Linked DNA regions of Homo sapiens: region 2 is linked to region 1. The links come from fine-mapping of genetic effects on gene expression. A gene starts in region 1. The other region holds a variant in brackets. All regions are shown on one strand. Distances are between the middles of the regions. Region 1 holds the start of INTS8 (integrator complex subunit 8). Region 2 overlaps INTS8 (integrator complex subunit 8).

What was found.
Region 2: its variant is fine-mapped to the expression of INTS8 in lung (TOPMed, PIP 0.95).

Annotation. Positions count from the first base shown.
Region 1 is chr8:94,810,368-94,827,622 of GRCh38, reverse strand. It overlaps INTS8 (integrator complex subunit 8), which reads right to left and starts at 4,336. Exons shown (of 27, transcript NM_017864.4): 1 at 4,062-4,336; 2 at 2,556-2,730; 3 at 220-360. The coding sequence starts at 4,191. RefSeq lists an enhancer at 3,690-3,749 and a silencer at 3,910-4,299.
Region 2 is chr8:94,864,226-94,872,225 of GRCh38, reverse strand. INTS8 (integrator complex subunit 8) reads right to left here. Exons shown (of 27, transcript NM_017864.4): 17 at 6,536-6,720; 18 at 6,035-6,068; 19 at 5,030-5,086; 20 at 4,889-4,950; 21 at 224-342. Among named protein-coding and RNA genes, the nearest start is that of CCNE2, 27 kb to the left of the region's middle. The variant T/C (reference allele first, on the strand shown) is at 3,985.

The DNA of each region.
Region 1 (17,255 bases):
TTAATTGACACATGGTAAATCCTGCATAAGTCATCCACATTTTTATCAGATTGCTTTTCATCTATGCAGTCACAAATTTTCTCCACCATTAGACTCACAGTTCCCCAGATTTGAAAAATCCCTGCAGCAGAATGGGTCCATTAAAAGAATATCCTTGAAAGCCACAGTGCAATAAAACAGAGGTTGCCCAACGCCTTCTGAGTTTATGAAAACATTTACCATCTATTATAGAGAAGTACAGCCATGGCAGTGGTCGGAGGTAAAGTGGCCAGATCCATGTCTACATGCTTTGTCCCAGGAGGAACTTTACTGATGCAGAGTAGTTCATTTAGTAGCATATTCAATACTGGAACAGACAAACTTGAAGAAGCAAAACGTACATGTTTGCACATTAATTGTGAAAGAAACACAAAATACATACAAAATTCCATATCCTCGCTGAAAATACCTACATTGTTAAGGAACCACATCTCTGGGTTTAGCTATCAAATGTGAAAAAGTTTTTTTTTCTTTTTTTTGAGACAGAGTCTCGCTCTGTCGCCCAGGCTGGAGTGCAGTGGCACAATCTTGGCTCACTGCAAGCTCCGCCTCCCGGGTTCATGCCATTCTCCTGCCTGAGCCTCCTGAGTAGCTGGGATTACAGGCGCCCGCCACCATGCCCAGCTAATTTTTTGTGTTTTTAGTAGAGACGGGGTTTCACCATGTTAGCCAGGATGGTCTCCATCTCCTGACCTTGTGATCTGCCTGCCTCAGCCTCCCACAGTGCTGGGATTACAGGCGTGAGCCACCGTGCCCGGCTTAAATGCGAAAAGATTTTTAAAACTTTTTATTATGAAAAAACGTAAAACATAAAAGTAGACAGGATATAATGAACCCCTATGTACCATCATCTAGCAATTATCACCTGATGGCCAATCTTACTTCATCTCTATTCTTCCCCACTTCCCAAATCATTTCGTCCATAAATATTTCAGAATATATTTCAAAAAATTAACTCTTAACATAATCACAATATTAATTTCACATCTAAAAAACTTAGACTTGCTTACTGTCAAACAGCCTATCAGTGTTCAATTTTCCAGCTGCCTCATATATGTCATACTTCTTTGTACCCATTGCTATCTGTTGATGTCTCTTCAGTCTATAACGTATAGCTTCCCCTGCTCAGATTAAAAATACACTTTATGGTGGCGGGCGCCTGCAGTCCCAGCTACTCGGGAGGCTGAGGCAGGAGAATGGCGTCAACCCAGGAGGCGGAGCTTGCAGTGAGCGAATATCGCGCCACTGCACTCCAGCCTGGGTGACAGAGCGAGACTCCGTCTCAAAAAAAAAAAAAATTCACTTTAAAAATTCTAATATTTAATGCTGAAGAATGTGGTTAAAAAGAGGGTTTTTGAATACTACTGGTGAGAATATAAACTCTTTTGGAATGCAATCCAGCAATATTCATGTGTCTTAACAATGTTTATACTGCACGATCCAGCAATTTAAGGAGCTATCCTAAGAATACAACTCAAAATACAGATAAACTTATTTTATGGGCAAAGATATTTAAGGCCCTGTGATTTATATCAGTGAAAAACTAGAAATAAACTAAATGACTGTCAATTAAGGAACAGTTAATAAATTACCCATACAACGGAATTCTCTCCAAAAAATAAAAAAGGGGAAATGCTCATGATACAGCTAGGTGAAAAAACCAGGAATAAAAACAGTATATAGGGTATGATCACAACTTTAAGCCTATGGAGAACAAAGAAAAAAAATTACATGAAAATGTCAAAAAAAACCCCTCTCCTCCCCAATTATTTCCTATTTTTTAAATTTTTCCCAACTTCCTATAAGGGATGTTTTAAATTGTGATGAGAAGGGGATGATAATAAATCATTTTCTAATAAAAGGCTTGAAATTATTTATATTTAAGCAAATAAGCACTGACTCTAATCAGCTGTTTTAATAGGAGATAGTGATTTATGACCAGTAAAATCAACTCAATTATTCAACAGCAAATCATTCATATTACACAACATCTATCATTAATTTTTATTCATTTTCTTCAGATATGTAAAAGTCACTTGAGAAATTTACAACAGTTTAGGTGTGGATTTTCTCTAGTTACCACATCAAAAGTAATGTTATACTTGCATATTTTATCAAGAATATATAATATTTATTTTATTATTTTTTTTTTTTTTCCGAGTCTTACTCTATCGCCCAGGCTGGAGTGCAGTAGCGCCATCTCGGCTCACTGCAACCTCAGCCTCCCGGGTTCAAGCGATTCTCGTGCCTCAGCCTCCCAAGTAGCTGAAATTACAGGCGCCCGCCACCATGCCCGGCTAGAGACGAGGTTTCACCATGATGGCCAGGCTGGTCTCAAACTCCTGACCTCAAGTAATCTGCCAGCCTTGGCCCCCAAAGTGCCGGGATTATTATAGGCGTGAGCCACGGCGCCCAGCACGTAATTTTTAAGAGCCGATATCATAAAAGCATATATAGAAATAAACCAAGATATCTAAATAGCACTTCAAATGAAATTTCACTGAAATCTTGGATACCTTTTCTCTAATATGTCTAAGTCCCACTTCAAATGTGCAGCAACTTTAAGAGCAAGTAGTTTTAAAATACGATTTCTCTTGTTATCAGGCGGAGGTTGAACTTGGTTTTGTTCATTAACTGAAGGTTTGGAAGCCTGTTCCAAAAACTGAACTATAAGTTGAACTGGTGCAGGATCTAGGGTTTAAAAGAAAATAAATTCTTAAATTTAAGTTTTAATTATGTAGATACAAAAGGATTCACTATTGGTTTGGTTTTTTTGGGGGGGTGGGTGGGGGGGGGGGGAGTTTGGGTTTTTTTTTTGCCACAAAAGGAATCCAAACAGCTGCGCTGTTAAAATGACTAAGGAATACGTATGTAAGAAGTGTGCCTGGGGGTTAAAGGAGATGCGGAAGAGTGGTAAGGAGGAAGGGTAACAGATTAGAGTGGAAGAAAGCAAAAAAAAGCACCTTACGGGGAAGAACATAACAGTCATAGATTTCTGGTTCTGCAAATAACCACTGCCAATTAGAAGAATGAGATATAAATATTAGAACTATTATTTTGACACTTAATTAGGGGGACCTCCATCAAGTGACCTCTCCGTACCTGCTTCTTCCAATGCAAAATAGAGGATCATTTTGAAGATTAAATTAAAGGAGGTAACGGATGTGAGCAATTAAGCACAGTGCATGGCACCCGGAAAGCACTCAACAAATTATCTTTCAAAAGGAATGAATTAAGGGCATTATACAGGTGCCAAAACTGCCTAAGTACACTAACTTCTTACACAGTGGTCTCTATCAGTGAAGGCCAGTCTGAGACTGAACAAGCCATATCTAGATTTGAATTTAGAGAAATGCTATCCGAGGAACTTACCTTTTTGTGCCAATACCTTTTTTGAGAATGCCTGGAGTTTTCCTCCTCCCCCATCAATCACACCCATTTAACTGGGCTATTAATCATTATCATCACTATACAAAGCCATCTTGCAAATGTGCAGCAGTTCCTACTTTCAAAGATTTTCTTTTAACTTACAGCCCAACTTTGGAATAAGAGTCAATAAAATTCCCTCACTGAAGAAAAAAATGTTTAAATAAAACCTAAGATAATAACTAGCGTCACGATCAACACCCAACAGCTGGTTTCTCCCCAGCTCCCTGAATTTATTCAGCTTGGGGTTGAAGGAGGCGTCTGGTCAGCCTCCCCGACCCAAGCAACCACAAGACCCGCCTCGCAGCCTCTAAAACCCCAACAGTAAAAAGGTAAATCGTAAAAAGGACCAAAGGGTTTAGGATGACAGCACCAAGCCCTCCCCTCCGGGGGTAGGAGAGCCTTTGTTTCGAGCTTTTCTTTGACCCTCCACCCGGGCATGTTTAAGGGAAGCGAGGAGCCCGGCCGGAGCTGGGCTCCTGTGCGCGCCTCCCAGGCCGCAGCTTCGGTGACCGAGAAGGCGGGGAGCGGAGGGAAGCTGGGCGGACAGCGCCGGTGGCCGGGTCCCGCTCCCCAGGTGCAGGCGCCGCGCTCACCCGGGCAGGGCTTGCGCAGATGTTTCTCCAACAGTGACTCCTCCAGCAGAAACTCAAACCAGCAGGTCTGCGGCGGGGTGCAGGGCCGGCTGGAGGTGGCCGCCTCCCGGTCCGCCGCCTCCGCGCTCATCCTGCCCCCGCCGCCGCTACCACCAGGGCCGCTTCCCGGCTCCAACCTGACACTTGGATGCGGGCCGGTGCCTGGGGTATGCGGAACCCGGTGGGAGAGAGGCCACCCTCCGAACGTCCCGGAAACTCACACAATCCAAAATGGCGGCGCGGGCCAGCCGGAGCTGCGGTCCTGGATCCGCCTCCCCGCGCCACCGCCGCGCCTTCGGACCAATCGTTGTTCGGGTTGGAAGGAAAGGGGCGTGACTAACCTTCGAACCACGCCTCCTCCCGGTTGCCATAGGAGACGGCGCCGCATGAAGCCGGGTCGCGGGTGGGTTTTCCGTGTTCCCTGACAGTTCTCCAGCGAGAAAATGAGACAACCTCATCTAGGGTTGCAACGGGCCTCAATATTTTCGTAAAGGCGAAGCGAAGGGTTCTAGTTGTGACCCAAGCAAAGTTTATCTCCTGTGCTTTCAATTTCCCCGTTCCCATTTCTGAGATTTCCTCGCACCTGGGTCCTCTCCTCAGATGCTCCCGCCGTCCTGCCGAGAACACCAGCTTCCCACTCGCTTCCTGGACGGATGGCAGCATACGGTGAGCAGCCCTTGCTGCTAGCTCCCGATACTTAGAGCCTAGTTGATCCTTTCGATATCCCCGCTAGAGGCGCTGTTAACCCTATACATTTACCTCCGTTCTGTGATGTTCTTGTATTTTTCATTAACGATTAAAACTGAAAAAAGATGCATTCATAGATCGTGAATACAAGGCCAGCCTGACCAATATGATGAAACCCCGTCTCTACTAAAAATACAAAAATTAGCCGGGCTTGGTGGCGGACGCCTGTAATCCCAGCTGCTCAGGAGGCTGTGGCAGGAGAATCGCTTGAACCCGCGAGGCGGAGGTTGCAGTGAACCGAGATCGCTCCATTGCACTCCAGCCTGGGCAACAGAGCGAAACTCTGTCTCAAAAAAAAATTTTTTTTAAGTAGCCGGGTATGGTGACACACACCTGTGGTCCCAGCTACTCAGGAAGCTGAGGCGGGAGGATCACCTAAGCCTAAGAGATTGAGGTTGCAGTGAGCTGTGATTGTGCCGCTACACTCCAGCCTGGGCAACAGAGTGAGACCCTGTCTCACAACGAGAAAAAAAAAAAGAAAGAAAAAAAAGGAAATCAGTACAGATTAACTTGACATTTTGACATTTGTATTACATATGTAAAAATAAGTTTTAATTAAGGAAGAGTTCATTATTCCACTACCATCTAATACAATAACAACATTATATATTTCAAGTCCCAAGGTGTTTTATTTAGACTCAAAAATGTCTTGCCATAAAAGTGTTACAGCACTGAACTCCCCTTTTCAGAGTGGGTAATTGAATACTTGAAGGTTGACAGAGATCTTGAAGTTTATTAAACTTAGAGACCATCTCTTAGAGGGAGTCATAACTTAAGACTTCATCAACATTGGAGGAGTCTAATGAACTCAAGCTTCCAGCCAGGGACTCTTGTCCCTCTAATGCAGGGCAGGTGACCCCAAATTGGAACTTCACCCCAGAGAGTTCTTTGCTTTGTCCAGGAAAGAATTCAAGTGTGAACCAGTGGTAGAAGAGAACAGCTTTACTGAAGTGGCAGTGTTACAGCTCTGTGACTGCCCCTGCAGAGCAGGGCTAACCCACAGGCAGTGCGCTGAGAATACCAGCTCAGGGAGGTTCTGCAGGCATATTTACACCCACTTTTAATTGCATGCAGATTAAGGGGAAGTTTATGCAGAAATTTCTAGGAAAAAGGTAGTAACTTCTGGGTCATCGGGTCATTACCATAGAATGGGGTGGCAATGCCCAGGTGTTGCCATGGCAATGGTAAACCGACATGGCACACTGTTGAGCATGTCTCATGGAAAGCTGCTTCAGCCCCATCCCTGAATTTGGTCCGGTGTCCAAACCCTGACTCCAGAGTCGCATCTCACCTCCTACCTCACTTCTGAGCAGTATGTTTGGAGGGTGTCTGTCAGAAGACCCTCAAAACTACCAGTTGCTTCTGCTTTGATGCAAGACACATATCCCAGCTGTGGCCAAGTTTGCTTGCCTGGGTCTGGAGTGACACATCTTTCCCTGTCAGTGTGTGACAATCCTGGTGTGGGTTCAGTGTTCTTGAAAGGTGTCCCAGAATGTCAAAAAGCCAAGGCTTCTTCAACTTGCTATGTCTTCGGCTCTCAGAAACAACAGAGGCAAAAGAAATATTTAAAATTTTGATTTAAAAAATAATACACTTGGAAAGATACCATCAGGAAAGTGGAATGACAACCCAAAGACTAGAAGAAAATATTTGCAAATCATGTGTCTGATAAGGGACTTACATCTAGAATATGTAAAGAACTCTTACAACCCAGCAACAACACAGTGAGTAAAGGATTTGAATTGGCCAGGCACGGTGGCTCACGCCTGTAATCCCAGCACTTTGGGAGGCCGAGGTGGGTGGATCACCTGAGGTCAGGAGTTCAAGACCAGCCTGGCCAACATGGTGAAACCTCATCTCTACTAAAAATACAAAAATTAGCCTGGCATGGTGGCGGGCACCTGTAATCCCAGCTACTTGAGAGGCTGAGGCAGGAGAATTGCTTGAACCCACGAGGCAGAGGTTGCAGTAAGCTGAGATTGTGCCACTGCACTCCAGCCTAGGCAACAGAGCGAGACTCCGACAGAGCGAGACTCCATCTCAAAACAAAAAAAAAAAAAAAAAAAAAAGGATTTGAATTGATCATTCTCCAAAGAAGATATTACAAATGGGCAATATGCACATGAAAATGCTCAATATCATTAGTCGTTAAAGAAACACAAATCATCGGCCAGGTGCGGTGGCTCACGCCTGTGATTTCATCACTTTAGGAGGCCGAGGTGGGTGGATCACAAGGTCAGGAGTTCAAGACCAGCCTGGCCAAGATGGTGAAACCCTGTCTTTACTAAAAATACAAAAATTAGCCGGGCATGGTGGTGATGCGTCTGTAATCCCAGCTACTCGGGAGGCTGAGACAGAGAATCACTTGAACCCAGGAGGTGGAGGTTGCAATGAGCTGAGATCATGCCACTGCACTCCAGCCTGGGTGACAGAGTGAGACTGTCTCAAAAAAAAAAAAAAAAAGGAAAGAAAAGAAAAGAAACGCAAATCACTAGCCTGGGCAACAACGTGAGACCCCATCTCTACAAAAAACACAAAAATTAGCCAGGCATGGCGATACATGCCTGTGGTCCCAGCTACCCTGGGAGACTGAGGTGGGAGGATGGCTTGAGCCTGGGAAGCAGGCTGCAGTGAGCTATGATTATGCCACTGCACTCTGGGCTGGGTGACAGAGCGAGACTTTGTCTCAAATAAATACATAAATAAATAAAGCAAAACAAAACTGTGTGAAATACCACTTCACACCCACTAAAATGGCTATGATCAAAAAGACAAAAATAAGTATTGGTGATGATATGAAATTAGAACCTCCATACATGTCAAATGTAAAATGCTACAGCCACTTTTGAAACCAGTTTGGCAGTTTCTCAAAATGTTAAAAATAGGCCGGGCACGGTGGGTCACGCCTGTAATCCCAGCACTTTGGGAGGCCGAGGCGGGCGGATCACCTGAGGTCAGGAGTTCGAGACCAGCCTGACCAACATGGAGAAACCCCATCTCTACTAAAAAATACAAAATTAGCTGGGCTTGGTGGCACATGCCTGTAATCCCAGCTACTCAGGAGGCTGAGGCAGGAGAATCGCTTGAACCCGGGAGGCAGAGGTTGCGGTGAGCCGAGATCGCGCCATTGCACTCCAGCTTAGGCGACAAGAATGAAACTCTGTCTCAAAAAAAAAAAAATGTTAAAAATAGGCTTACCAGATGACTCAGCAATTCCCCTTCTAGGTATGTATCCAAGAGAAAGGAGAAAATGTACCCACACAAAGACTTGAATGTTTAGAACAGCAGTATCTACAGTAGCCTAAAAGTAGAAACCAAGGTCTATAACCTGGTGAATAGACAAATAAAATGTGACATACTCATTGTATCTGTTTCAAGTGGCTGCTGTAACAAATTACCACAAACTTTGTGGTTTAAAACAACAGAAACTGGCCGAGTGCAGTGGCTCACGCCTGTAATCCCAGCACTTTGGGAGGCTGAGGTGGAGAGTCCAGGAATTCAAGACGTATCTGGGCAGCATAGTGAGACTTCTGTCTCTACAAAAAAATCAAAATAAAAAATAAGGCTGGGATGGTGGTGTGCGTCTGTAGTCCTGGCTATGTGGGAAACTGAGGTGGGAGGATTGCTTGAGCCCAAGAGGATGAGGCTACAGTGAGCCGAGATTGCACCACTGCACTCAGGTGGGTGACAGAGTGAGACCCTGTCTCAAAAAAAAAAAAAAAAAGAAAAGAAAGAAAGAATGAGAACAGACTGTGGTCATTCAGACTTGGGTATTTAGCAGACATTTTCTTGAACAAAGTGAGCCTGTCATGTCACTTTATGGAAAACAACTAACACCATTTGTGGCGAATAATAACATTCAATTTTTTTTTTTTTTTTTTGAGATGGAGTTTTGCTCTTGCTGCCCAGGCTGGAGTGCAATGGTGCTATCACCGCTCACTGCAACCTCCACCTCTCAGGTTCAAGCGATTCTCCTGCCTCAGCCTCCCGAATAGCTGGGATTACAGGCACTGCCACCACCACACCTGGCTAATTTTTCTATTTTTAGTAGAGATGGGGTTTCACCATGTTGGCCAGACTGGTCTTGAACTCCTGACCTCAAGTGATCCTCCCACCTTGGCCTCCCAAAGTGCTGGGATTACAGACATGAGCCACCGCTCCTGGCCAACATTCAACTTTTTAAGTAAAATTAGAATTTTAGAAAACTGTAAACTTGGCAGCTTCCCAATACTTGACAAGACTTTTCTGATGACACCAATGGCGATATTAACAAATGTATATTTAAATGTGTCAACTTTCAGATGATCATCACAACTTGACAAATCAATCAATATTTTCCTAATATATGGCTAAAAGATTTATTTAAATTCCAAGACAAGCCGAGCACAGTGGCTCATGCCTGTAATCCCAACACTTTGGGAGGCAGGGGCAGGATGATCACTTGAAACCAGGAGTTGGAGACTGCAGCGAGCTATGATCATGCCACTGTACTCCAGTCTGGGTGACAGAGCGAGACCCTGCCTCTTAAAAGTAAATAAATAAAAAATTTCAGCTGGGCACGGTGGCTCATGCCTGTAATCCCAGCACTTTGGGAGGCCGAGGTGGGAGGATGACGAGGTCAGGAGTTTGGACCAGCCTGGCCAACGTGATCAAACCCTGTCTCTATTAAAAATACAAAAATTAGCTGGCATGGTGGCAGGTGCCTGTAATCCTAGCTACTCAGGAGTCTGAAGCAGGAGAATAGCTTGAACCCGGGAGGCAGAGGTTGCAGTGAGCAGAAATCGCATCACTGTACTCCAGCCTGGGCGACAGAGCAAGACTCCATCTCAAAACAAAACAAAACAAAAAATTTCAAGACAGACTGATGAATTGTAATGGAACGGAATTTGAAAAGTTAATTGGTATGATTTCAGATTTAAAATTGCAGCTAATCTTTAAGAAACAACCACTTTCTCAGGTTTTGGTGAAGAAAGTCCATAATTATCCGAAAAGATATAAAATACTTCTTTTTTTAACTACTCATCTATGTGAGCAATGCCACTCTTCTAGTTTTTAAAATGAAAATAGTTATTTTATATAAAATTGTATTTGTCAGCATGTAATAGGATTATTTTTATTTTTATATGATTATTTTATTTTAATTTAAATAAATTAAATATTTTTAAAACTTCTCAGTGTTAATTTTTAATATGGTAAATATAAACAAACACTCTTTTAAGTGCTTAATAATTTTTTGGTCTAACAGGGCCCTGAGACTAAAAAATCTGAGAAACTATTTTATTGAGGCATGCACATCAAAATCCTACTGTGTTTGGCTCTGAAGAGAAGAGGGAAGGAGGATAGAACAGGGGTGGGTTAGAGAAGGGGAGAGGAGAGGTGAATGGGGGGAAGGAGTGGGGGAGGGGGGTCACAGGTACTTCAACTTTATCTGTATTTTTTTTTTTTGAGACAGAGTCTTGCTCTGTTGCCCAGGCTGGAGTGCAATGGTGCGCTCTTGGCTCGCTGCAACCTCCACCTCCCAGGTTCAAGTGATTCTCCTACCTCAGCCTCCAGAGTAGCTGGGATTACAGGCACGCCACCATGCCTGGCTAATTTTTGTATTTTTAGTAGAGACAGGTTACACTATGTCGACCGGGCTGGTCTCGAACTCCTGACCTCAGGTGATCTACCCGCCTCAGCCTCCCAAAGTGCTGGGATTACAGACGTGAGCCACCGCACCCCGTTCTGGTTTTTGTTTGTTTGTTTTGTGATGGTATCTCTCTGTTGCCCAGGCTGGAGTGCAGTGGCATTTAGCTCACTGCCTCCTTGACATCCTGGGTTCAAGTGATCCTTCTGCCTCAGCCTCCTGAGTAGCTGGGACCACAGATGAATACCACCATGCCCAGCTAATTTATTTATTTTTTTGCAGAGATAGGGTCTTGCTATGTTGCCCACCCAGGCTGATCTGGAGCTCTTGGGCTCCAGTGATCCTCCCACGTTGGCCTCCCAAAGTGCTGGAATTACAGGTGTAAGCCACTGTGCCCAGCCATATATAGATGCTTTTAAAGTCCCTGATATTTCCTCAAAACCCATGAAAAATTCTATGGGCTCATAGAAACAAACTATTATGGAGCATTTGTTACATACCATGACCCAAATTAGGGCCTTTATATCCTCGTTTTCTCATTTGATCTTTCAACATCCTAGAAAGTAGGAATTATGAGCTCACCTTACAGCTGAAGAAGCTGAGGATCAGAGAAGTTATTGTTCTTAATTTTTTTTCTGTGGATTTACAACTATTTAAAAAACAAAAAATCAATAGCACACAAATTTGGTGGAACTTTTATTATAATTGCACCAAATCTATAGATAAACTTGATAATACAGTAATGAGACTCCTTATCTAGGAGCAGAATAAGTAGATCAGTAGCTTCGTCAAAGTCTCCCAGAGAATAAATGTTAGAACCAGGGTTTGGTCCCTGATATGACCTTCGTTAAATTGAACCACTGCTATGGTCTGAATGTTTGTGTTCCCCCCACATTCATGTGTTGAAAACTAGACCATGCATGGTGGCTCACGCCTGTAATCCCAGCACTTTGGGAGGCCGAGGCGGGCGGATCACCTGAGGTAAGGAGTTCAAGACCAGCCTGGCCAACATGGTGAAACCCTGTCTACTAAAAATACAACTATCAGCCAGGCGTGGGCATGGGCGCCTGTAATCCCAGCTACTTGGGAGGCTGAGTAATGAGAATCGCTTGAACCCAGGAGGCGGACGTTGCAGTGAGCCGAAATCGCACCACTGCACTTTTGCCTGGGCGACAAGAGCGAGATTCCATCTCAAAAAAAAAAAAAAAAAAAAGAAAAGAAAAGAAAAGAAAAAGGAAAGCAAACTAACCCCCAAGGTTAGAAGGGAGGGGCCTCCTTTGGGAAGTGATTAGATCATGAGGGCAAGATCGCATGTGGAAGACCTATATGAAGAAAATAATAAAAATGTTATTCAAAAACATGAAGGATCTAAATAAATGGAGAGAAAAATTCTGCTCCTAGAGAGGGAGGCTGATTACTGTATTCTCAAATTTATCTACAGATTCAGTGAAATGATAATAAAAGTTCCATCAAATTTGTATGCTATTTGTTTATTTACTTATTTATTATTTTTTTAAGACAGAGTCTTGCTCTGTCACCCAGGCTGGAGTGCAGTGGCACAATCTCGGCTCACTGCAACCTCTGCCTCCCAGGTTCAAGCAATTCTCCTGCCTCAGCCTCCCAAGTAGCTGGGACTAACCACCACGCCCAGCTAATTTTTGTATTTGAGTAGAGATGGGGTTTCACCATGTTGGACAGGCTAGTCTCAAGCTCCTAACCTCAGGTCATCCGCCCTCTTCGGCCTCCCAAAGTGCTGGGATTACAGGCGAGGGCCACTGTGTCCAGCCGGTTTTTTTGTTTGTTTTTAAAAATAGTTGTAAATACATGAAAAAAATTTAAGAACAGTATAAAGAACTCTCCTATCCCCTTCACCCAAATGTGTCCATTGTTAATATTTTACCATACTTCCTCTCACCCTCTCTCCACAACAGCTCCCTACTTCCTTGTATACTGGGTAGAGTGACCAACTCTCTTAGTCCATTTTGTGCTGCTATAATGGAATACCTGAGACTGGGTAATTTCTAAGGAACAGAAATTTATTTCTCACATTTCTAGAGGCTGGGAAGTCCAAGATCAAGGTTTAGCCTCTGGTTCTGAGATGTCACCTTGTTGCTGCATCCTACAGAGAGGACTGCTGTGTCCTCACACAGCAGAAAGGCAGAAGAACAAGGGAGAACGAACCACTCCTGCAAGCCCTTTTTTATGGCAGCATTCATACTTTATGAGGGCAGAGTCCTCACGACCTAAACACCTCCCAAAAGGCCTCACCTCCCAATACTGTTGCATAAGAATAATTATGTTTCCAACACATTAATTTTGGAGGAGGCAAAAACATTAAAACCATAGCACCAACTCATCCCCGCTTGGCCAGGACTATGTCAGTTTTAAAACTGAAAGTCCTGCATTCCGGTAACCCCTCAGTGTGGGCACACTCTAACCCCAGGCACACCACCTGTGCAACCACACCCCTCACCTTGTCCCCATCTGCTTGGATACTGCGTGCTGACATCTCCACATGGAGAAGATGAGAAAGGAAGCTTGTAGTTAATTATCAATTAGTCAAACAGCCTGGAAAATGTCACAAGGCCTGAAATGTTCTAGAGTGTTTAGCTTCAGATCAAGGAAAAATTCACAAATGAGGTGGTAGCAGATTTAGTAACATCATAAGAATAAGTGAAATTCTGGCAAACCCCTTTTATAGTGATAATTATGTATTTGCAGGGCCCCTGGCAAGGTTCATATGCTGTATATGTTTACCAGTTACCATCAAGTAGAAGTTTCTGTTTTATGTTGATCATAAACCACAGTATCTAGTCCTGCTCTCCTCCTTCATGATAGTTTAAAATGTTTTCTTTTACATCCTCCCTGCTTCCTTGTTATTCTGGTAGCTCAGAGACTCGTTGCCTCTGAAATCTGGGTCTCTACAAAGTACAGCAAACTAGATGAGCTACAGTGAAAAAATAAAAATAAAAAAGCAGAGATATTATACAGTCTAAGGATGAAAATTATTTTCACCAAGGACTTCTGAAAATCACATAAATAAAAAAATAAACTAGGACGGGCACGGTGGCTCACGCCTATAATCCCAGCACTTTGGGAGGCTGAGGCGGGTGGATCACCTAAGGTCGGGAGTTCGAGACCAGCCTGGCCAACATGGTGAAACCTCATTTCTACTAAAAAATAAAAAAATTAGCTGGGGGAGGTGGCGCACGCCTGTAATCCCAGCAAATCGGGAGGCTGAGGCAGGAGAATCGCCTGAACCCAGGAGGCAGAGGTTGCAGTGAGCCGAGATCGCGCCGCTGCACTCCAGCCTGGGCAACAGAGACAGACTCTCTCTCGAAACAAACAAAAAACTTGAAATCGGTTAATTTCTTTGGTATTTCTTTAAAAAAATATGCAATACAATTCAGACATAAACATACAATTTAAAACTTTATTCAATAAATATTTTTGAGGTGGGGGAAACTGGCTGATGGATTCTACTGCCATCTTGTGGCCATTAGGGATAGTGTCCATATCTACCGGTAATACCGGCTGGCTGGTATCACCTCTTCCTTATACTTTCCAGTATGGAAGAAGGAATATGACTTGAGGATTGTGATTGGAAGTAACTAATTCTTTGTACAAGCTATCCTGCAACACCTAACTGAATTACATCTTGTTAGGGACTTCCAAAAACAGATCTGTCAAGAGGTAATAAGCGAGTCCTACCAAACATGACTTTTCTCTGCGGTCTTCACTACCTCCTTGGACAGGTAGGCACCCTGTTGTATGTGGCCATAGAGCTGTGCATCCCGGTCATGGCATTCATATCACCTCCTTGCAGTTACCTATTTAACAGTCTCACTTCCCCGGTAGACTCCAAGATCTTGGAGGTGGGGGTGGGGGAGAGCAGAATGGTGGTTATACCGTTTACCTGGTACAGCCTCTAGTACACAGCAGGCACCCAGTAAATATTTGCTAAATAAATAAATCTTTTATTAAACACAAAGCACCTGCCTTTTACATGCATGCAAATGCTTCCCTATAAACCAGATCTACAAACCTTTATTTAATCTTTGCTTTATCTAACCTAAAGCATTATTAACCTGTTCTTAAGATATTTATGACTCACTCTATTGTCTAGGTTTTATAATCAGCAATAAACTTAAAGCTTGTTGGGGCTCAGAAAACGATACCCTAAAATGAAGGCCCCAGAGACATAAGTTTCTCTCTGACCCTCTCCTGACCTCCTGTCTCTGGACCATCATTCTCCCCTAAGGCTTGCCATAGAAACCAGAACCCCTTTTCCCTGGAGCTAGCCATCAAACCTAATAATATTACTCTAACTTCACCCTCCCACCCATTTTTCTGTGTAAAAACTGACATTAAAAAATTATGTGAGCTACCTTGGTTTTGGGGGTTTTGTTTGTTTGTTTGTTGCTTTTTGAGACGGGGTCTCACTCTGTCATCCAGGCTGGAGTGCAGTGGTGCAATCTTGGCTTACTGCAACCTCTGCCTCCCAGGTTCAAATGATGCTCCTGCCTCAGCCTCCCTAGTAGCTGGGACTACAGGCGCACACCACCATGCACATCTAATTTTTGTATTTTTAGTAGAGATGGGGTTTCACCATGTTAGCCAGGCTGGTCTCGAACTCCTGACCTCAGGTGATCCACCTGCCTCGGCCGCCCAAAGTGCCCAGCTATGTTGTTTGGTTATAGGTCATGAGACCCCCATTCCAGAGAGGGTGCTGCCCTGTCCCCAGTAGGAAGGAATGCTGCACTGAGAAGCCAAGAAGAATCTAGACAGACCTTGCAGGGTGTCCCCACTCAGTCTATTATGGTTAAGTCATACTCTTTTTGTCCAATTACATCTGTACATGGCTGTTCATACTTTGTTGAAACTAAGCATACAATGGACAGGTTCCCCGGTATCTTTGAGTCTTCATTCTGAAGGCTCTCATGTCACAAAAAGCTATGATCAAATAAACTTATATGCCTTTTCTTCTATTTACCTGCCTTCTGTTAGCTGATTTTCAGTGAACCTTCAGAGGATGAAGCAGAAGTTTTCCTTTACCTCTACAGCTCTTCCAAGCAGTGTCCATGTCTATACATCTGTATTTGTGTTATCCATACAGCACCTAGCTGAATGGATAACCGAATGTAGGCCTTATTCACCTAATGGAAGGAACAGGTGTGTCCTTATTGCCATGACATAGCCAGAGCAGAGGTCATTCCACTTTCATCTGGCAACCGCCTGCTACCTTCCTTTATAACCTTCTGTACAGTGATTGCTATAGTTTGGATGTTGTCCCTTCTAAATCTCATGTTGAATTATAATCCCCAGTGTTGGAGAAGGGGCCTAGTGGGAGGTAACTGGATCATGGGGGTGGATTTCTCATGAATGGTTTAGCACCATCATCTTGGTGTTGTCTTTGTAATACTGAGTGAGTTTGAGATCTGATTGTTTAAAAGTGTGTGGTACTTGGCCGGGCGCAGTGGCTCATGCCTATAATCCCAGCACTTTAGGAGGCCAAGGTGGGCAAATCACTTGAGGTCAGGAGTTCTAGTCCAGCCTTAACAACGTGATGAAACCTCCATTAAAAATACAAAATTAGCCAGCCATGGTGGCACATACCTGTAATCCCAGCTACTCGGGAGGCTGTGGTAGAGGTCGCAGTGAGCTGAGATTGCGCCACTGCACTCCAGCCTGGGTGACAGAAGGAGACTCTGTCTCAAAAAGAAGAAAAAAAATGTGTGATACCTCCCCTGAACTCTCTTGCTCTTGCTCTCACCCTGTGAGATGCCTGCTCCCCTTTGCCTTTTGCCAGGATTGGAAGCTTCCTGAGGCCTCCCCAGAGGCAGATGGCAGTACCATGCTTCCTGTACAGCCTACAGAACAGTGAACCAATTAAATCTCTTTTCTTTATAAATTATCCAGTCTCAATTATTCCTTTATAGCAATGCAAGAATGGCCTAACAAAAAGATAGACAGGCTTGATTGGGGACTGGGCCAGACAGACTCCTCCGTCTCCATTTCTGCATTGCCAGGCTCACTGTGGGGAAGGGCTCAGTTCTTCAGACTGGCTAGTGGTCTGTCATGTACATTCGACCAGCTGGCATCTAGAGGAGAAGTCACAGGAGCTTTCATGTTAGTCTCTCTTTTTGTTTTTACTTCCAAGTACTATATGTTTACACTAAAGGCTTTAAAGCATAAAAATCTCTCTGCATACAGATAAACAGGACAAAATTTTAAGGTGTGCTTTTAGAGTCAGAACTTTCCTGACATTCTCAGTAGGTAGAAAAAGATTGTCATATTAAAATACTATCAGGATACCACAGGCTGTATTTACTCCTGTATTTCCCCATGCTGTTGAAAGATCATAATTGTCTGTGGTAGGCACACAGCTCTTAGCAAGCAGTTGACTTCATTCGTTATAATGGAATAAGCCAAGTTTCCAAAGTCTTATCCAGACAATTTCAGAATTAGAGCAGATGAGCATGTGCGGGCAAATAATGTGATTTCTTCAAATATCCAGTTCTTAGACCACATACACACAAAGCAGAGAACAGAGATATTCAAAGTATGGTTTGAAGACTGGTGTCAGCTCCTAAACTGTTTCTGGTCGGTATCAAGATAAGCACGGGAATTGACAGTATGAATTTACAAATTTTTACTGCAATTTGACATTGTCTTGATAGCCAAGTTAATGATCAGTGGTCTTGTCTGGGGGAGCAGGGACAGAAGAGTTTGGGTGTTGGGGGACTTGGGTGGCAAATTCAACATGCAGAGCTGGGAACTAG
Region 2 (8,000 bases), 49 kb before region 1:
TTTTTGAAAAAGAGAATAAAGGTAGTCAACGTAAAGTTAAAAGCATCTGAACCAAAGGCTCTACACTAAAAAAAAGTACAAATACTTTTACTGCTTTAATTTTACTAAAGACAAGTAAATCTCAACAAAACTTAAGTATTGAAATAAAATAGGTTATATATTTACTTTCACTTCAAAAAGTGCTATAAAAACAAAACACAAAGCAACTAAACATCTCACTTACCAAAGTAAATATCTGCCTGGATAATTAACCAAGAATGGTTATTTGGATTTATACTGAGTGTATATCGAACTAGCTCTTTCACTGTGATTGCCACAGCTTCAAAGTCCACAGACTGGAGGCTAAAAGGAAAGACACACAACATTAATCTCTATTTTAAAAGTCAACTTTAAATTCCATGCATGTATTTATTAAAAACAAAAACTCAGCCAAGATTTAGGTGAACATAAATATAATGCTAAATACTAGGAGTAAATGTATTATAAGAACTATCAACACAACTAAGTCTAAGAAAGTGTGATGGGCTTTTTATGAGGGGTTGAAAACAATCTGATTTTTGTTCTCTTTTCTTCAGAATGTCAAAGGTAGACAAGGCTGCACCAAGAAAGTGTATTTGCCTCTTTTACAAATGTTTAAAGCATACAGAAGTAGTGAGATAAAACCCTTACCTCTGCTTAGCACAATTTATGGGCAACAAAAGAGACTCATAAAATTTCCCCAAATTATTATTATCATTTTTTTTTTTTTGAGACGGAGTCTCACTCTGTCGCCCAGGTTGGAGTGCGGTGGCACGATCTCAGCTCACTGCAACCTCCGCCTCCCGGGTTCAAGTGATTCCTCTGCCTCGGCCTCCTGAGTAGCTGGGATTACAGGCGCTCACCACCACACCCAGCTAATTTTTTTTTTTTTTTTGTATTTTTAGTAGAGACGGGGTTTCACCATGTTGGCCAGGCTGGTCTCAAACTCCTGGCCTCAGCCAATCTGCCCATCTCAGCCTCCCGGTGCTGGGGATTACAGTCCTGAGCCACCACACCTGGCCCCCAAATGATTTTTAAGTTCTGTTATCTATGAGAAGTTACATAAAAATCAAGGACTCAGACACTGACAATGTTGCCTTGTGGCCTTACATCCACCTTAAGCCTTCTTGCAAGAGTTACTGACTCCCCTCGAGATGCTTCAGGGGCCTAATGGGGTCAGGGGCTGGATGTCCAAGTATATCATATCAGTGCATCTGGCAGCCCCCAAGAATCAAGAAAAGAGTACTGTGAGCCTGGCTAAATGTGGACACCTTCAGGTACAGAGTCAGAAGATTGAACTGTGAAGAGAAAAGCGAGGCCGGCACCCAAAAAACTGCTAACTGCTCCCACCTCCTAAGAGCAGTAAAGCACAAGGGTAGAGAATACAGGCTGTGGATTCAGACGCATGGCTCTATCATTTACAAGGTGAATTTAGACAAGGTACTTCTGTTGCCCTGAGGGGTTACAGTTTACCCTAACTCACCAGAGCCCAGTACAGTGGAAAATGAATTGTGGGATTATTAGCAAATAGTCCATTATTTATTTAAATTTAAATAGTTATATAAGTTAGATTGGCTTACAATTTTACAGACATTTACAAAATGTTACAAGTGTAAGAATTCTATATATCAAGTAGTTGGTTTTAAAAACGTAATCTTCAATCCAGTGCCATTCCCACTATTCTTGGAATCAATAAAGAGTCCCACTCAGGAGAAATACTTTTCTCTAGTCAAACATTTAGTCATATTTTGTTTTCTCTGGGTCAATTTAAAGTACTTTCATCATGAAGATAATAGTTAAGCCTACTATGTACCAGTCTTTATTCTAAATATCTAGCTTAGAAAATGTATTATTTCAGGCCAGGTGCGGTGGCTCACGCCTGTAATACCAGTACTTTGGGAGGCCGAGGCAGGTGGATCACGAGGTCAGGAGATCAACATCATCCTGGCTAACATGGTGAAACCCCGTCTCTACTAAAAATACAAAAAATTAGCCAGGCATGGTGGTGGGCGCCTGTAGCCCCAGCTACTTGGGAGGCTGAGGCAGGAGAATGGCGTGAACCCGGGAGGCAGAGCTTGCAGTGAGCCAAGATCGCGCTACTGCACTCCAGCCTGGGTGACATAGCAAGACTCCATCTCAAAAAAAAAAAATAAATAAATAAAAATATATTATTTCATCCTCACAATTCTTAGGCAGGTACTATTTTAGAGATGGGGAACATGGCACAGAAACCAACTTATTGAAGGTCATATACCTCTAAGTGAAAAGGCTGGGGCTCAAACCCCGTGAGTCTGACCCAGAGCCCCTAGGGTAAACAATTCTTTTGCCTCATTTACAAACACGCTGGAAACCAATCATTACAGTCTAAACTTAGGCCACAGAGGTAATACTACAGAGGCTAAAAAACACAACCATTAGGTGGGGCGCAGTGGCTCATGCCTGTAATCCCAGCACTTTGGGAGGCCGAGGTAGGCAGATCACAAGGTCAGGAGTTTGAGACCAGCCTGACCAACATGGTGAAACCTCATCTCTACTAAAAATACAAAAATTAGCTGTGTTTGGTGGCACGTGCCTGTAACACCAGCTACTCAGGAGGCTGAGGCAGGAGAATTGCTTGAACCCGGGAGGCGGAGGTTGCAGTGAGCTGAGATCATGCCACTGCACTCCAGCCTGGGCAACAGAGCAAGACTCCGTCTCAAAAAATAAAAATAAAAATAAGTAAATAAATAAATAAAAATAAAAATTAGCCAGGTGTGGTGGCACACGCCTGTAGTAATTGCTCAAACCTGGAAGGTGGAGGTTGCAGTAAGCCGAGATCGTACCATTGCACTCCAGCTTGGGTAACAGAGTGAGACTTTGTCTCAAAAAAACCCCCAAAAAACAAAAACACAACCACTGAAACCACCAATTAAAAAATGCAAAACTGGGCTGGCCGTGGTGGCTCACGCCTGTTAATCCCAGCACTTTGGGAGGCTGAGGTGTGCAGATCACCTGAGGTCAGGAGTTTGGGACCAGCCTGACCAACATGAAGAAACCTGTCTCTACTAAAAATACAAAATTTACCCAGTGTGGTGGCACATGCTTGTAATCCCAGGTACTCGGGAGCCTGAGGCAGGAGAATTGCTTGAACCAGGGAGGCAGAGGTTGTGGAGAGCCGAGATTGCGCCACTGCACTCCAGCCTGGGCAACAAAAGCAAAACTCTGCCTCAAAAAAAAAAAAAAAAAAATCCAAAACTGGGTGGGCATGGTGGCTCACGCCTATAATTCCAGAGCTCTAGGAGGCCAAGGTGGGCAGATCTCTAGAGGCTAGGGGTTCAAGACCAGCCTGGGAAACAGGGTGAAACCCTGTCTCTACTAAAAATACAAATAAATAGCTGGGGGTGGTGGCATGCACCTGTAATCCCAGATACTTGGCAGGCTGAGGCATGAGAATCGCTTGAACCTTGCAGGCGTAGGTTGCAGTGAGCTGAGACCTCACCACTGCACTCCAGCCTGGGCGACAAAGCAACGTGATGTCTAAAAAAAAAGAAAAGAAAAGAGAAAAGAAAAGAAAAGAAAAACTGTCTCTACCTGATTCTTGAATTGGTATCTAACAACAGATTTTATATAAAAATCAGGAACACAGGATGACGGACTCTGCAGTTCAAATGCTGTGGAGCATGCACATGTGCTTCATGCAGCATGGTGCTCCCTTGGGAAACAAGCCTCAGTAAGTGGAGGGCAGGGGCACTCACCTGCTCTGACCCTCCAAATCCCTGGATGAGACAGAGAGCTTTTCCAATCTCTAAGATTGAGACGGAAACAAATTCTTTACTATTATTCTATTATCAGCTTGTCTATGTACCGAAATCTTTTCTTCTTCAAAGATGCCACTAAGAGTAATAACATAAGGCTTGGACAAGCACAAACTAAGAAGACTGAGAGGGAGGGCAGGGAGGAAAAACATCTGTGAGGAAACAAGTTGAT[T/C]CCCCTACATGAGAAGTGCTATGTGTGGGAAAAGAAAAATGTACATGATTTCTTCAAGTAAATGAACCCTTTTTCCTCCCCTAAAAAAAGTCCCCATCATCTTACTGTGATTCTCAGGTAGTGCATGCAAAAGGGAATATTTCTCAAAGTAATTAAAGAAGTTTAGTTTAGTTCCTACAGCAACTAAAAGAGATTGGGAGCCTTTTGATAACTGCAGCATTAGATGAGACATACAAAAAATTATGAAAAAAGAAATCACTTTCAAATAGATACTTGTAAAAGAAATAAGATGCTGGAAACCTGATAGAAAGTCATTCTTTCATTGGCCCCAATTTTCCAATTCTACTGAAAATCAGGACCACTTATATCTTCTGTTCCAAGGCTGATAAATCTTAACTCCTACTTAAGAGTTATGCTGGGCCAGGTGTGGTAGCTCCTGCCTGTAATCCCAGCACTTTGGGAGGCTGAGGTGGGCAGATCACTTGAGGTCAGGAGTTTGAGACCAGCCTGGCCAACATGGCAAAACCATGTGTCTACTAAAAATACAAAAATTAGCCAGGCGTGGTGGTGGGTGCCTGTAATCCCAGCTATTTGGGAGGCTGAGGCATGAGAATTGCTTGAGCCCAAGAGGCAGAGATTGCAGTGAGCAGAGATTGTACCACTGCATTCCAGCCTGGGCAACAGAGTGAGACTCTGCCTCAAAAAAAAAAAAAAAAAAAAGGGTTATGCCTTATCCACAATTTACAGGAAGATAATTATCATTATCATAATAGAGAAACACAAAGACTGTAGAATCTTAGATTTCTGGCCCTTTAATAAAATTATCTAAGGGTATCTATACTAGTCAGAATGGTTTCCAAATACATAACTCAATTAATAAAATAAAAGCTATACCACTACTTACTTGGGAATGGAAGATGGCCAAATAGAAATGTGTTCAGCTGTAATATCATTCACAATGTCCTCCTTTAAAAAGAAAAAAAAAGGTGTGATTTACAAAGAAATTTCTTTTAAATTTTTCTAAATGAAATTATGAAATACTTACCCGAACATTGTGAAGTTTCACAAAGAGTGATAAAATAATAGTCAAAACGAGTGGTTCCTATGAGAAAGAAAACACAGAATCCTTAAACAGTGTATGTATATTTATTTAATATTGCTCCTGTCAACCTCACAGACATCAAGCATTCTAAAAGACCCTTGCCTTTTGAAAATGTAGCATCTGTTTTAGCATGTGCTTTAGCACACTAAAAATCAACTTTTTAATCGCATGTGGGGGCGGGGCGTGGACCATAGCACATAATTTACATAAAATTAGCATAAATGTTTGGCTTATGGTGCTATCTCCACGCTCAACTCCTCACATGACTCTCAAGTAACTTTTTATCCCTTAAAATAATGTTCAAAGAGTGAAACCTAGGTTACGTCCAATAAGTAAATATGACATTGATCCTACTAAGCAAAAATTAAAGCCAGGCTTCACACATCTAGCCCCTATTATGAAGACTTCTTTACAATTTAAAGAAATACCTGCTCCGTTCACTAAAACATGGTAAAGTAAATGCAATACAAACTTTTCCAGTCAGAATATCCCACCCACCAATAATGATCACTGAAGAAAAGCACATTAACAGGTCACTTTAATAATTTAACCAGAGGCCAGGCAAGGTGGCTAACACCTGTAATCCCAGCACTGTGAGGGGCCAAGAAGGGATGATAATTTGAGACCAGGAGTTAGAAACTAGCCTGGGCAACAAGGGGAGACCTCATCTCTACAAAAAATTAGCTGGGCATGGTTACATGTGCCTGTAGTCCCAGTTCCTCAGAAAGCTGAGGCAGGAGGACTGCTTAACCTCAAGAATTAGAAGACGCAGTGAGTTACAATCACACCTCAGCACTCCAGCTTGGGTGACAGATCAAGACCCTGTCCCTTAAAAAAAAATTAAAAAACAAATAATAATTTAGTCAGTATTTGAAGTACCCAATAATTTTTAGTCATATTCTACAAAAACCAGCAATAGTAATTAGAGCAATTTTTAATAAAACTTACTCGTAATTTTTTGATAAAAGAAAGCAGTTCACTCCTACAAAACAAAAATTTTTGAATACACATTTAATATTAGAAATAAAAAATAAAATCAAGAAAGTAAATTATAGGTGAAGGTTTATTCTTAATGCTCCAATTCTGCAAGTGTGAAAAGGAATGTAATATTCTACTGTTATACTAACCTAATAACATTTCTTCCCTGTTTTAATCACATGTGAAGTCTTCAATACTATCCAACCTTAAATACTACTGATTTTGAATTCCAGTTGATTAAATGATTAATAGTTTCTTAAAATGACATATAAACAAAAGATCTTTCCAAAGGTGGCCAAGGCAGACAGGTTCATCACAGGTGAGTACTACAGAACTCGTAAGATTGTCCAACTTTATGATATACAGAATAAAAGCTGATGTTCTTGAAATCAACCTTTAATAGGTTAATAGTATAAATAGGATAAATATTAAGAACTCAAACACAACTAATAGAAACGTACCAATACATACCGATACATGATACCTAACGTAGATTCCCTCTGTTTTATTAAACTAACTCTGCCATCATTTCCTCGTTTGTGCTGACTGGACACACTACAGATTTGAACAACAACTTCCCAAAGGTCTTTGGCAGTCCGTCTACTTTCTTTAGGGCCTGGAAGTTCTTTGCATGTAGCTGCTAAAAGCTGTCCAAGCTATAACATGAAAAACAAAATACACAAAAGATAATCTGTAATGTCGTGCACATTAGTTCTATTATCAAGGCACACTGGAGGAAAGATGGAATGACTGCCCAAACATACTAAGCACAGTTATTTTATGCTGTGCATTCTGTACAACCTTTGAGGAATTTAGGGCTCATTGCGTACTGACAGATCTGAATCTGAGAAAGATCCTCTGGTTCGAGCATACGAACTTTGTTTCTGAACAGTTATAGTCTAATGAAAACGAAAATGAGACAACGCAAAGAGATAGGTGATTTATTAAGTGGAAAAAAAAACGAGTTGCTAAATACACATAGTATGATCCCACGTTACATAGGGAAAAAAAAGTGTAATGGAAGGCATACACCAAGATGTTAACTGTGGTAAAAGCCCAGGGGGTGAGGTTAAAATAGTGCTCAGATCTCTCTCTCTCCCACGTGCAAATACACACACATACAACTTTTAATCACTAAAAAAAAAAATTGTTTCAACGAAAAAAATAAGGAAAGGAATAAGGAAACTGAAGTTGGCAGAATTAAGGGATATAGATTTAAAGCAATTTTTCTCTAAGAAAATTGGTAGCAACTGGGAATGGAGCTACTGCTCTTCTGAGGAGGTAGAATTAAGGCAGGACAGGTTACACAAAGTGACTGGTATGAATAAAGGCAGCCTCAATGACCTAGGATGTAGGGAGGACCCAGAAATAAAGAGTGGGAAAGCTAAAAGCAAAAGACAGGGAAAGATTGACTTACAATAAATTCAGAATTTCTTTTATTTTCTTTTCTTTTTGGAGGCAGGGTCTTGCTCTGCACCCAGGCTGGAATGCAGTGGTATAATCTTGGCTCACTGCAACCTCCGCCTCCCAGGCTCAAACGATTTTTGTGCCTCAGCCTCCTGAGTAGCTGGAATTACAGGCATGTGTCACCATGCCCGGCTAATTTCTGTATTTTTAGTAGAGACGGGGTTTCACCATGTTGGCCAGGCTGGTCTCGAACTCCTGGCCTCAAGTGATCTATCCGCCTCGGCCTCCCAAAGTGCTGAGATTACAGGCTTGAGCCACAGCATCTGGCCAAATTCAGAACTGGGCCCCTTTACCCTTGTTCATATTAACTTTTATACTCCATCGCTCTTGTAGAGGGTGCAGTAGCAAGGATAATTTCAAATCCATCAGGAACCCCTGGTTTCTACTTAAAATGGACCTAGGGGTCCCTACTGCTTAAGGCGGCTTTTTTAAGGAGGTGGCAAGATTGTGACAAGGACAAAAATTGGTG